3 separate regions of the Homo sapiens genome follow, and regions 2 and 3 are each linked to region 1. The links come from fine-mapping of genetic effects on gene expression. A gene starts in region 1. Each other region holds a variant in brackets. All regions are shown on one strand. Distances are from middle to middle. Region 1 holds the start of HAAO (3-hydroxyanthranilate 3,4-dioxygenase). Region 2 overlaps MTA3 (metastasis associated 1 family member 3). Region 3 overlaps MTA3 (metastasis associated 1 family member 3).

Region 1 (4,238 bases):
CCACCTCCCGGGTTCAAGCAATTCTCCTGCCTCGGCCTCCTGAGTAGCTGGGACTACAGGCGCGTGCCACCACGCCCAGGTAATTTTTGTATTTTTAGCAGAGACGGGGTTTCACCATGTTGGCCAGTCTGGTCTTGAACTCCTGACCCCAAATGATCCACCCACCTCAGCCTCCCAAAGTGCTGGGATTACAGGCATGAGCCACTGCGCCCGGCTTGAAAGTTGTTTTTTAAAATCAACTTCACTGAGATGTAATTTAGGTACATACAGACAATTCTTAAACAACTCCACTCAAGAATTCTTTCAACCCATCAGTCAGAATGCATAAACCAGACCTGCCCCTCCTCTGCCCAGAACTCTTCAGCAGCTTCTCACCTTGCTTGCTTCAGCAGCTTCTCACCTTGCTGAATAGTAACCCCTCCTGTAAAATTTATATGTTGAAGTCCTAACGCCCAGTACTGCAGAATGTGACCTTATTTGGAATAGGGTCCTTGAGATGTAGTTAGGTTAGGATGAGGTCATCCTGGAGTAGGGTGAGCCCCTGATCCAATATGTCTGGTGTTCTTTTAAAAGAGGGAAATTTGGACACAGACACACACACAAGGAGACTGCCTTGTGAAGACGAAGGTGGAGGTGGGCGTGGTACAGCAGAAGCAAGAATACCAATGATGCCAGCAAACCACCAAATGCTAGGGAGAGGCCCGGGCAGATGGACGCGAGACCTCAGGGGGAGCGAAGGGAGGACTGAGAAGGAGCGACTGCAGATGGGGATGAAGTGTTGGAAGGAGGCAAAGATGATGCTACATCTTTAATTGGGGGTGGGCAACAACAGTGATAGAAGAGATCTTTGGGGAGATATTGACTGTTGGCCATGTGGTATTGCATGGTAACCAAGAGTGTGCGTGGACTCTGGAGTCGAACTGCTCCGTGGGTTGAGTCTGGAGCCTATCGCACAGGCGCTCCGTGACACTAGAAAAGTTACTTATGAAAATCCCCCCTCACGGTGCTACTGTGAGAATGAGATGAGATGATGTAAAAACACTTGGCATAGTCCTGGGCCTGCTGTTTGCCTTGAGGTGCCACCCTACTGACCATGTCCTGTGGACACAGCAAAAATGGGGAATGTAAACCTTGATCTAGCTGGCATGTGGGGCCCCGCCATGGAACTGGGGGGATGAGGGAGGTGACCATACCACAGGGGAGGGCCTGAGAGGTCTGCCTGAGAAAGATGGCAGCTGGATGGCCAACCCTGTTGGGTGCTGCAGGCAGAGGCTACTGGCAGAGGTGGCCTAGGGAGGGTCTGGTGTGGTGTGTGTGTGTGTGTGTTCGTGCACACCTGCATAGAGGGGCCCTGAAAAAAGCAAGACATCAAGATCTTCCCAAAGGAGCGGATTCTCTGCCTCCCCCTTTGCCTGTGGCTTCTGGGACAGGGTTGGGGTGTATGATTTGGCTGCCCCCAGGCCTACATTCTAGTGCATTTCTGCCTTGAAAACCACCCTCCCCACACTTTTGAGTTTTCCCAAAATGCACAGTGTCACTTGGGGTTGGAGAATTGTTTCTCAGCCCTGGAAGGAGAGGTGCACCCTGTCATGTCATCTCCTACAGCCTGAGAACCAGCTCAGCCTTCTTCAGAAGTCAAGGCCACAGTCACAAGAAAGAGGAACAGACCGATGTGGTGGAACCGGAACAGCCTGTCTCCATCTTCCCCCAAGAACCAAGAGATTAAAGCGGTCCTTCTGCAAGCTTCTGGGTCCAGGAACTCGGAGCTGGAAGGTGAGGGCGCAGATGGAGGAGGGGGAGGAGGCGAGGGCAGGGGGCGGCCATGGGGGTGCTGGACTCACATGAGCTTGTTGCAGACCGGGGGCTGGAAGGAGCCCCGGTTCTCCTTCACCCAGGCCCTCACTCCCAGGCGGCGCTCCATGACTGTCCCGGGCGCCTCCTCGCAGCGCTGTCCTCCCGCCGTCGGAGGCCCGCAGCTCCGCCCAGCCGCCTTTTTAACCAGAATCCCAAGCTCACGAGGCGGAGCAAACCCCCGCGACCCCGTGGTGGGGGCTTGGGGCCCGCGGACTTTGCCCCCTGGTGGACTTTGGTCTGAGCCCGCCGCCCTCCGCGCCACTCCAGGCCCTGGCGAGCGCGGCGGCGGCAGCGCTGGGGAACGGCGTCCCGCGCCCTCTGCTTCTCCGCGGGGCAGGGGCTCGGTCCCCGCCACCGTCTCCGGGGCGCCCCACACACTGGCGCCTGCGGTGGGGCCTGCTCCCGGCGGAGGACAAAGAATCCAGACCCTTCCTGGACGCTTGTCCCCAGACGTTCCTTCCCTCTACGCCCCGAGGGGAATCCCAGGGAAGGTTCCCAGAAATACTACAGTGAGGAGATCGCGGGTTGGAAGTCCCAGCACCTGAGAACACGGTGCTGGCGCTGGGCTCAAGATTTGGCTTTCCCATCTGGAAAAGGGGAATGACTGCCCCGCCACTCAGGGCTGCGGCGCTCACCCAGCGGGAAGCCGCACGGCGGTCCCCGCAGGTCCCGATTCAAGGTGAGCCCCAGACCTGCTGCGTGCGGCCGGCAGACTCCGCCGCGGGCTCGGCGAGGGGAGCGGTGCAGGCGCCGAGCTGCGGAGCCCGGGCTCAGGGCAGGACCGCGAGCCCTCCCCACCTGAGGCCCAGCCGAGCGGCCGCTGTCCGCGCAGTGTCGCAGTGGACCCCGAGCCCCGTGCTGAACTCCTTAGGCGTCTTAGGAACATACTCAGTTCGCACGCAGCTATGGGAGGAATTTGGCAGATGTGGACACCGGCCTCAGTGTCCTAGCCCTCGGGAATCTCGGGGTGTTAATGATGACAGCCCCGTGTGAGAGACTCTAACAGTTATCCTGGGGGTGAGGGGCTGGGGCGCTGGGCCTGGGCGTGCATGTGTGAGGAAAGAGAAATCTGCGCGGGTGTGGAAGATGGAGAAGCCTGTCTTTCTGCAGGACTCAGAACTTTCTTAGGAAGTTTGGAGGGAGTGGGAGCTGACGGGTAGGGGAGGAGGAAAATGGCTCAGGCCCCTGACACCGGAATCCAGACTATAGAGTTTAAGAAACTAAACGCCTCTAAATCCTGCCCTCACAGCCCGCCTGGCCTGGGCTGGTTTTCTCAGCATTCCAGACATAAAGACTCCTCTAGTACAACTCAAAATCAAAACCCAGACGACAGGAAGCCGAATTCCCCACTGAGACCCTCCCGTTTCCTCTCTGACGCTCTTTTTTTTTTTTTCATTTTTCTCTCTCCTTTTTTTTAGTTATTTATCTAGCACAGTTTTAGCTGAGCACTTCTAGTGCAAAACTAGAATATCGTTTTGCACCCAAGTAACTCACACCACCTTCTTTATTTTTCTCATCTACAAGTAATCAGAGGAGACGTAAACAATGACACATGAAGCACTGAGGATCTGAGATGTGTTAAGTTTGCTTTGAGTGTTAGTTAAATGGAGGGATGGGTGAGTGGGTGGATGAAGGCATCAATGAATTCACACAAAAAGGAGAAAAAATTGATTTCAGCCCAACAGATGTTCCGTTACCATAGTGCAAAGGAAAGAATGATAGGTACTCTGTATTTTAACTGATGTGATCAAATAATGTGAATAATTAAGGCCACAAGTAGAATTTTGGGGGTCTGAAATATCCCGAGTAACCCTCTACACAAGCTAAATGACTGCTATGTTATCACTATCAAATATGCCCTCTGATTTGTGCTGTGTAGAGCAAATACCACGTCTGGTCTACTGAATTGGCAAGCCTCCTGGCTCAGGCACCACTGGACTCCAATGTTCAGAAAACGGACAGTTGCTATGTTGTGAGTATTCTGGCATTGTTGAGTTGGAACCATCTGGAATCCTTCTGGATACTGACTGTTGGGCCCCTTGTAGTTTCTGGAATTTACCCGCTTCTAGGAGCCACCTCTCTCCTCTGCACACAGGAGCTCATCTGCACTAAAGGATTAGAAGCAAATAGAATCTACCCCACGATCCAAGCTCAAAGGATCTGGCCTGCTTGCTGGTGTCTTCCCCTGGCCTCCGCTGGGTGGTGTTTGCCTGCCCAGGTCACTGAGACCAGCAGATCCTTCTAGGCTTTGCTGAACCTGGCTGGTAATAACTATCTGACCCTTCAATTCTTCCATACACTGAACTCGTTGCTCCAGTGAATCCCTTTCCCAGCCCACCTTGTTTTGTCTCTGCCTTTCTGTCTCTCCCACTTTCTCACCCTTT
Region 2 (4,245 bases), 110 kb before region 1:
ACCTCTGAGCTTGTTTTTCTGCAACTAGACAGTCCCATCTGGGGGTAATGGGAGATAGTGATAGATCATTAGGCATTAGATTCTCATAAGAAGTACGCTACCTAGATCCCTCGCATGCACAGTTCACAATAGGGTTCATGCTCCCGTGAGAATCTAATGCCGCTGCTGATCTGACGGGGCAGACCTCAGGGGGCAGTGGGAGTAATGGGGAGTGGCTGTAAATACAGATGAAGCTTCGCTCGCTTGTCCATTCAACACCTGCTGTGCAGCCCAGTTCCTAACCAGTCCATGACCTGGGGGTTGGGGACCCCTGAGTATCCTATGTATATTTTTTATTATTAAAAATTTTTTTTTCCTCAGCTTTACTGAGGTATAATTGACAAGTAGAAAATACATATTTTCAAGGTATACAATATGATGATTTGATATACATATACATTGTGAAATGATTACCACAATTAACACATTCATCACCTCACTTACTTACCCCATGCAGTGGGGTAAATACCAGGTCATCTTGTCTAACTATAGTATGTACTTTGTTTTGTCTTTGTGTTTATGGACTTACTGTCTTTAGTTAAACTTATAGTTCCTTTGAAATGGTGAAATTTCCATTTGAGATTTTCATAAATAGCTTTCTATGAAGTCATCCTTTATTTTAAATTATGAAAATAGAATCTTTATAGACCATTACGTATTTGATGTGAGCCAATAGCCTGCCTTTTATGTTGCTGCATCTTTACTGAATTGTTTGACACAAAGTTATTACTTACCAATATGGGCTGATAAATTAAATCCCAGACATAGTAATTAAAACTGTTAGTGTCACTGATAATTTGTTCTTCTGGCAAAACTTCACTCATACTTAAATTGTTACATGCCATGATTTAAATTTGTAGGATGCGCAGCTGAAAATTTAAAGTGCATTGGTATTTAGCTTCAGATGGTCAGAATAACAATAGAGCAGTGTTATTAATATAACAGTTATTAAAATAATAGAGCTACAGCTACATAGAAATTGCAAAGAATGAAACCTAACAAATCAAATCTACACTGTGAGGCTCAATGAAAATTCAAAAAAGATAAATAAAACCTGCAGATCTGATAAAGGAGTAGGAGTTGAGAAACACTAAAGTGAAAATACTTTTCCCTGCACCAAATGTAATACCTCATTCTGTGCTCTGGTGGTATTTACTGAGTACCTGTAACATGCCAGGCTTGCAAAAAGGCACTAGGCATGCAACAAAAATTGAATGTGGTCCTTACTTCAAGGAATTAGTTCACAGTTAAAATCAAGAGATTGAAATATACACCCAAGTAAAATATAATTAATTACTTCTGTCAGTACATGAACAAGTGTATAGGAATATTAAAAAGGATTCCTTGTGCCAAAGTGGAAGAGGCTTCATGGAGTTAACTGGCATTTTAGCTGGGTCTCTAATAGGTAAAGAGAGAAAAGAGCAGATAGCAAGGTAAACACTGAGGTGTGAAACTTACAGCACTCCTAGGCACTTAACACAGGACTAGAAGATAACTCTGTGAACTGTAGGTTAGTGCAATATACTTGGACATAGAGGCTGGCATCAGTATCAGATAAAATTAACTATGAAAATGAGTATAACAGTAATAATACTGTTAGATGATTTTTTTGTTGTCTTTGTGGTCTAACAAAATTACAGATTTGTAGCATGGTATATATTAGTTTTTCTTTTGTTTTACCCTAGCTTGTTTCAATAGAGAGCTTATTGAAACATTAAGTACTAGGGAAGATGAAGAAATAGACATCAGATCGGGCCTCCAAGATTGTGACTTTGAAAGTCACACTTCAGAATGGGCCAGCTAAGGATACTGCCGTCCCTGCTGTGATTAGAAACCTAACTGCTGAAGTAGGAAGCTAACACTCTACCTGTGGCTCCAACGTGCTGTCTCTCCCTTGAACCCCACCGGCAGGGTGCCTTTAGTACGAAATCCATCTCTCTTGCCAGTGCATCTATGATGCAACCTAAATTATACCCAGAATCTTAGATGCAAGGGAGTCTGGGAAATGTGGATCTTAACCCTGCAGACTGCCCCTTAGGTCATGGTTGTTGAAGGGCCAGTCTTGAAGGGCCAGTCCATATTAGATTTGTTGTATTTTGGAGACTGGAATTGGCTACTTGTGTCAAACCCTTAAAATAAACAGGATAGAATGTCAGAGTGTTAACTGCTCAAAGGGTTTTGTGTTTTTTGTGGTAGTTGTTGTTTTTAAATTATCATCCCCTCTTTCCCTCCATACTTATAAAAGTAATGTATAAACCTAGTAGAAAATAAAATGCAAATAATGTTATTTCCTATAATGCCATCACAGGTACATGATGTTGTTGGGGCAATGTATTTCTTATGACATGAAGTTTTAAGAAGTGTCCTTTTAGAAACTGTCAGGTAGTGTATGCAACAAAAAGTCTCCTGGGCCTCCTCTGCTTAAATACTAGACCTTTACCTGAGCACTGAGCAACTGTGTCATAATGGTGAGTTTTTTAAAGTGGTTTCATCCCACTACCCAAAAGTGATCATTGATTATTTTCTGCTTCCAGTGTCTTAGTTTTCCCAAGTGAATGCATATATTATTGTGTGTTTGTACATTTAAGAACAAATTGTGTAGAAGGCACATATTTGG[G/A]TATAGATATTTTTATATTTAGTGGTTAGCGATAGCTTTATTCCGAAGCTTAATTTAACTTATTTCAAAATTTATACACAGTAAAATTCACTCCTTTACAGTTTTTTACAGTTAAAGTTCTGTGAGTTTTTATAAATGCATACTCCCATAATCATCACCACAGGCTGGGTGTGGTGGGTCACACCTGAAATCTCAGCACTTTGGGAGTCCGAGGCAGGAGGATCACTTGAGCCCAGGAGTTTAAGACCAGCCTGGGCAACATAGTAGACTCTGCCTCTTAAAAAAAAAAAAGAAAGAACAGTCTGGGCATGGTGGCTCATGCCTGTAATCCCAACACTTTGGGAGGCCGAGGCGGGCGGATCACTTGAGGTCATGAGTTCGATACCAGCCTGGCCAACATGGTGAAACCCTGTGTCTACTAAAAATACAAAACAATTAGCTGGGCATGCTAGTGCAGGCCTGTAATGCCAGTTACTCGATAGACTGAGGCAGGAGAATCGCTGGAACCCAGGAAGTGAAGGTTGCAGTGAGCTGAGATCACGCCACTGCACTCCAGCCTGGGTGATGGAGCAAGACTTCATCTCAAAAAAAAAGGGCTGGGCATTGTGGCTCACACTTGTAATCCAAGCACTTAGGGAGGCTGAGATGGGCAGATCACTTGAGGCCAGGAGTTTGAGACCAGGCTGGCCAATATGGTGAAACCCCATCTCTACAAAAAAAAAAAAAATACAAAAATTAGCTGGGCCTGGTGGCACATGCCTATAATACCAGCTACTCAGGAGGCTGAGGCATGAGAATTGCTTGAACCCAGGAGGCAGAGGTTGCAGTGAGCTGAGATCGCGCCACTGCACTCTAGCCTAGGTGTTAGAATGAGACTCTGTCTCCACAAACAAACAAAACTCATCACCACAATCAAGACACAGTACAGTTTCATCACCTCTCCCGTCAAGTCTCCCCTTTTATAGTCAACAATACCCTAGCCCTAATCCTGGCAACCACTGATTTATGCTCCATCCCTATAGTTTTGCCTTTTTCTGAACACTGTGTAAGTAGAATCGTTTAGTAGTATGTAACTTTTTAATTTTGGTTTCTTTTACTTAACATAATGCATCTGGTATTCATCAGTGTTGCTGCATATATCAGTCGTTCATTTTCACTGCCTAGTAGTACTATTCCATTGTGTGAATGTACCACAATCAGTTTATTCATTCACCTGTTGAAGGGAATTTGAATTGTTTCTGATTTTTGATGATTATGGATAAAGTTGCTATAAACATTTTGCATGCTAGTTTTAGTGAACTTAAGTTTTTGTTTCTCTTGGGAAATATGAGCCGTGGGGTTGCTGGGTCTTACATGATAACTATATGTTTAACTTTATAAGAAACTACCTTTGTTAGCTTTATAACATATCAGTGTAGCCAGACTGAACCACATTTTCCAGAATTCCCTTCCCGGTATGTTGCCCTTTAGGGTGGGCCATGAGAAATTCTAGTGCAGGATTTGGAGAGCAGAAATGAAGCACCAGCCATTTTTGTAGCTCATATGTGTTCTCATTTATCTGCTGGCCCAGTTTGTTGGCATGAGGCAAT
Region 3 (4,245 bases), 160 kb before region 1:
TCATGGAAATTTATGTATTTTAATTAGGTATTTTAATTAGGATTTCTCTTTATTAGTCTATTCTCACACTGCTATAGAACTACCCGAGACTGGGTAATTTGTAAGGAAAAGACTTTTAATTGATTCACAGTTCTGCATGGCTGGGGAAGACTCAGGCAACTTACAATCATGGTGGAAGGGGAAGCAGGCATGTCTTACTTGGCAGCAGGCGAGAGAAGGAGAAGGAGGAACTGTCAAACATGTATAAAACCGTCAGATCATGTGAGAACTCACTATCATGAAACTGCCCCCGTGATCCAATCACCACCCACTAGGTCCCTCCCTCGACACGTGAGGATTATGGGGATCACAATTCAAGATGAGATTTGGGTGGGGACACAGAGCCAAACCATATCACCCCCTTTCATTTTAAATTTAAATTTTGTTATTTTTTTAAAAGTGTATGGATATGGCTGTCTAATAATATCCAAGGCAGTCATTTGCTTGGTTCCAACTCTGTAGTCATTTTCAACTCCTCTCGATGGTGGCTTCTGGCATTTATACTGTTCTTATATTCCTACTATTAATTTTTCAGTTTTAGGAATTTACCTTTACTTCTCTCTTCCCTATTCCCTTTGCCATCTGTTTCTAATATTATCACAACTTTTATTTAACTTAGTAAACAGTCTTTGTGTTTTATGAACATGTCAGTATTATGTATTCTTTCTTGTATAAACTTTTGTTTTCCATGGAGTTTATCATTGTTTTACCTTTGCCTTTTGATTAAGTCTTCTAAAAATGTAAAAGTTTTTATTCTCATATATCTAAAAATATTTCTCACACTTGGCCAATGATTTGTTTAGACATAGAATTTTGGTTTGGAAATCACTTCTCTCAGAATTTTGAATCTGTGCTATTCTGTTTTATGCGGTTGCTGTTGAGAAATCTAGTCTTCTGAAAGCATTTTGCATCTCTGATCTTTATTTTTTTATTTGATTGTTCATTGTGTTCATTGTGTTAAATGCTGTCAAAACTGTCTACTCACTGATTTACCAATCCCAGAACCTAATATTTTGACACTGTTCTTTATACAAAGAAATATTAAGAATCTGTAACTTGGGCCGGGCAAAGTGGCTCATGTCTGTAATCCCAGCATTTTGGGAGGCCGAGGCGGGTGGATCACCTGAAATTAGGAGTTCGAGACCAGCCTGACCAACATGGTGAAACCCCGTCTTTACTAAAAATACAAAAATGAGCTGGGTGTGATGGTGGGCATCTGTAATCCCAGCTAGTTGAGAGGCTGAGTCAGCAGAATCACTTGAACCCAGGAGATGGAGGCTGCAGTAAGGATAAGATCACACCACTTGCACTCCAGCCTGGGCAACAGAGCGAGACTCTATCTCAAAAAAAAAAGAATCTAGAGTTTGTGGCAAATGTAAGACTTGTAAAGTCAATAAAAAAATGTCTTTCTTTAATGAAGCAATAATACTGTTTGTTGAACAAGGCAAGTTTAATGTCAAACTCTGCATCTATAGGAATTTTTCTGTTTTTTTTTCCCAAGACAGAATTTCACTCTGTCACCCAGGCTCGAGTGCAGTGGCATGATCTTGGCTCACTGCACCTCCTTCTCCCAGGTTCAAGCAGTTCTTGTGCCACAGCCTCCGCAGTAGCTGGGATTACAGGCGTGCACCACCACACCCAGCTAATTTTTTATATTTTAGTAGAGATGGAGTTTCACCATGTTGCCCAGGCTGGTCTTGAACTATACCTGAGCTCAGGCAATCTGCCCGCCTCAGCCTTATAGAATGCTAGGATTACAGGCGTGAGCCACGGCGCCGGGCCAGGAATGGTTTTTTAAGTTTAGTGAACTTAAAAAAGTTCACTAAACTTGGTGATGTTTGTTAATCATGTAGATTCCTGGACCCATCCCA[A/G]GACATTGAAATTCAGTAAGTCTGGTACAGCACTAAGATATCTGCACTTTTCTAAGTGGGTAGTCCCCGCTTCAAGTTGTATCAAGGTAAAAGAAAGTTTGGGCCAAGTGTGGTGGCTCATGTCTATAATCCCAGCCTTTGGGAGGCCAAGGTGGGAGGATCGCTTGAGCCAGGGAGTTTGAGAGCAGCCTGGGAAACATAGCAAAACTCTATCTCTACAAAGAATTTAAAAAAAATTAGCTCTGCGTGTGGCACACACCTGTAGTCCCAGCTACTGGGGAGGCTGAGGTGGGAGGATTGATTGAGTCCAGGAGGTTGAGGCTGCAGTGAACTGTGATTATGCCGCTGCACTCCAGCCTGGGTGACAGAGCTAGACCCTTTCTCAAAACAAAACAAAACAAAACAAAAGAAGAAAGTCTACAGGCAGGGGGTAAATGATCACTAATTTAAACTTCTTTCTCTTTCTTTCTTTTTTTTTTTTTTTTTTTGAGACGGGGTTTCGCCCTGTCACCAGGCTGGAGTGCAGTGGTGCGATCTCGGCTCACTGCAACCTCCGGCTCCCAGGTTCAAGCCATTCTCCTGCCTCAGCCTCCAGAGTAGCTGGGACTACAGGCGTGTGCTACCACTCCCAGCTAATTTTTGTGTTTTTAGTAGAGACAGGGCTTCACCGTATTGGCCAGGCTGGTCTCGAACTCCTGACCTCGTGACCCGCCCGCATCGGCCTCCCAAAGTGCTGGGATCATAGGCATGAGCCACTGCGCCTGGCCCTCCTCTTTCATTTATACAAATATGTACTAGCTTTAGATAAAAGAAATATATAACCTGTATGCACATTTTTACGTTTTTCAGTCTGTAGGATTATATGGGACATACCATTAAGCAAGTAGCAGATTCCAGGCTGATCAGCGCCTGCTGTTGAACGTGTGACTTTGTTTTGTCGTAATTATTTATTCACATGTCTTTGTGTCCCAGCACCCTGCGCAGTCTCTGAAACAGATTATACTTTGAAAACCTTTTCAGTGACCTGTGGGAAAGTAGGTTTTCTTTATAGCAATTCTGTACTCCTTTGTGGTTCTGTGTAGAAAAGTAGTACGAGTGATTATATGGGCCTGGAGTGATCTTTGTGTTGTGGTCTTTGATACACTTCATATCATGCTTGGGCATCTTTATTATTTAAGGATTAAAATATCGTACATGACACATGATTAGGTTCATTGCTTGAGACTCAGTATAAATTGCCTATGGTATCTGTATACGGAATTTGATAATAGTTCCTTTAGGTTGGGGTTAGCTTAAAATTTACCATGTTTTTATCTATGAGCCAAGATTTGTTTGGCATAAAGGAAACTAACGCTTTAAATCTCTTTTTAAACCACTTTTATCAACAACTCTTGGCATGGTAATATATGTGTTAATTACATATTCATATTTACTTCATAAAATAATTCTGACTCAACCTCTTAGCTGTTAATGTATGTACATGAAAATTGTAAATGTTAGATTTTCATTTTTAATTTGGGGAGATGTACAATATAGCTATATTAAAGAAAAATTTAAAACTTAGATCACTTATTATCCTTTCATCTTTGTATAAAAACTGCATTTCCAAAAACAATTTGTACTTCATTATAACCTGTGTTTCCTTATTTCCTAATATAATTATGAAAATAAAGGTTTTATAATTTAAAATCTTTTATTTCAGACCATATGGAAGAGACTTTTAAAGTATGCTATATTGTTTGTTTGAATTTTCAGTGTCCGTTAACCCTTAAAAGTCAAGGGACTATTAAAGACAGTGGTATTGGCTGGGCATAGTGCAGTAGTGTTTATAACCAGTTACAGATTTCTTTTTTTCTTCTCCACTATCACTGTTTCAGTTGACTAGCCTTAAAAAAAAGTACCTATTAAAATAAAATTTAGCAGGTTTTACTCCTCCCCATTAAAACAAGCAAATCTGACTTTAGAGAACTTATTTTTTTAAAAAGGGGGATTTTTTTTTCTAGGTGATTGAGTATCAAATGTTAGAAATATTGCTTTGTCAGCTGTTAATGAGGGGAAAAAGTAAGTGAAAACTATTTTTAGAAACCTCATTTATTAAGCATATTGCATGTGTGAGCACATATTCACAGGTCATAGATATTCTGTGGCAGCTGTCGATGTGCTAACGGCAGCAGAGCAATTTCCCTAGTTGCAATTCTGTCCGTTATGAGAACATGTCAGATAATTGTTACCTTTTCTTTTTTTTTTTTGAGACAGGGTCTTGCTCTTTTGCCCAGGCTGGAGTTCAGTGGTGCAAATACAGCTCAGTGCACCCTAGACCTCCTGGGCTCAAGCA

What was found. PIP is the estimated chance that this variant, and not a neighbour inherited with it, causes the effect.
Region 2: its variant is the best candidate, but not a certain one, in a credible set for the expression of HAAO in whole blood (TOPMed, PIP 0.71).
Region 3: its variant is the best candidate, but not a certain one, in a credible set for the expression of HAAO in whole blood (INTERVAL, PIP 0.53).

What each region holds. Positions count from the first base shown.
Region 1 is chr2:42,790,616-42,794,853 of GRCh38, forward strand. HAAO (3-hydroxyanthranilate 3,4-dioxygenase) reads right to left here and starts at 1,968. Exons shown (of 10, transcript NM_012205.3): 1 at 1,842-1,968. The coding sequence starts at 1,921. RefSeq lists silencers at 1,815-2,254, 2,435-2,534, 2,615-2,704.
Region 2 is chr2:42,683,587-42,687,831 of GRCh38, forward strand. The region is part of intron 9 of MTA3 (metastasis associated 1 family member 3); the gene reads left to right. Among named protein-coding and RNA genes, the nearest start is that of OXER1, 78 kb to the right of the region's middle. The variant G/A (reference allele first, on the strand shown) is at 2,657.
Region 3 is chr2:42,634,248-42,638,492 of GRCh38, forward strand. All of the region lies in intron 4 of MTA3 (metastasis associated 1 family member 3), which reads left to right. Among named protein-coding and RNA genes, the nearest start is that of MTA3, 68 kb to the left of the region's middle. The variant A/G (reference allele first, on the strand shown) is at 1,911.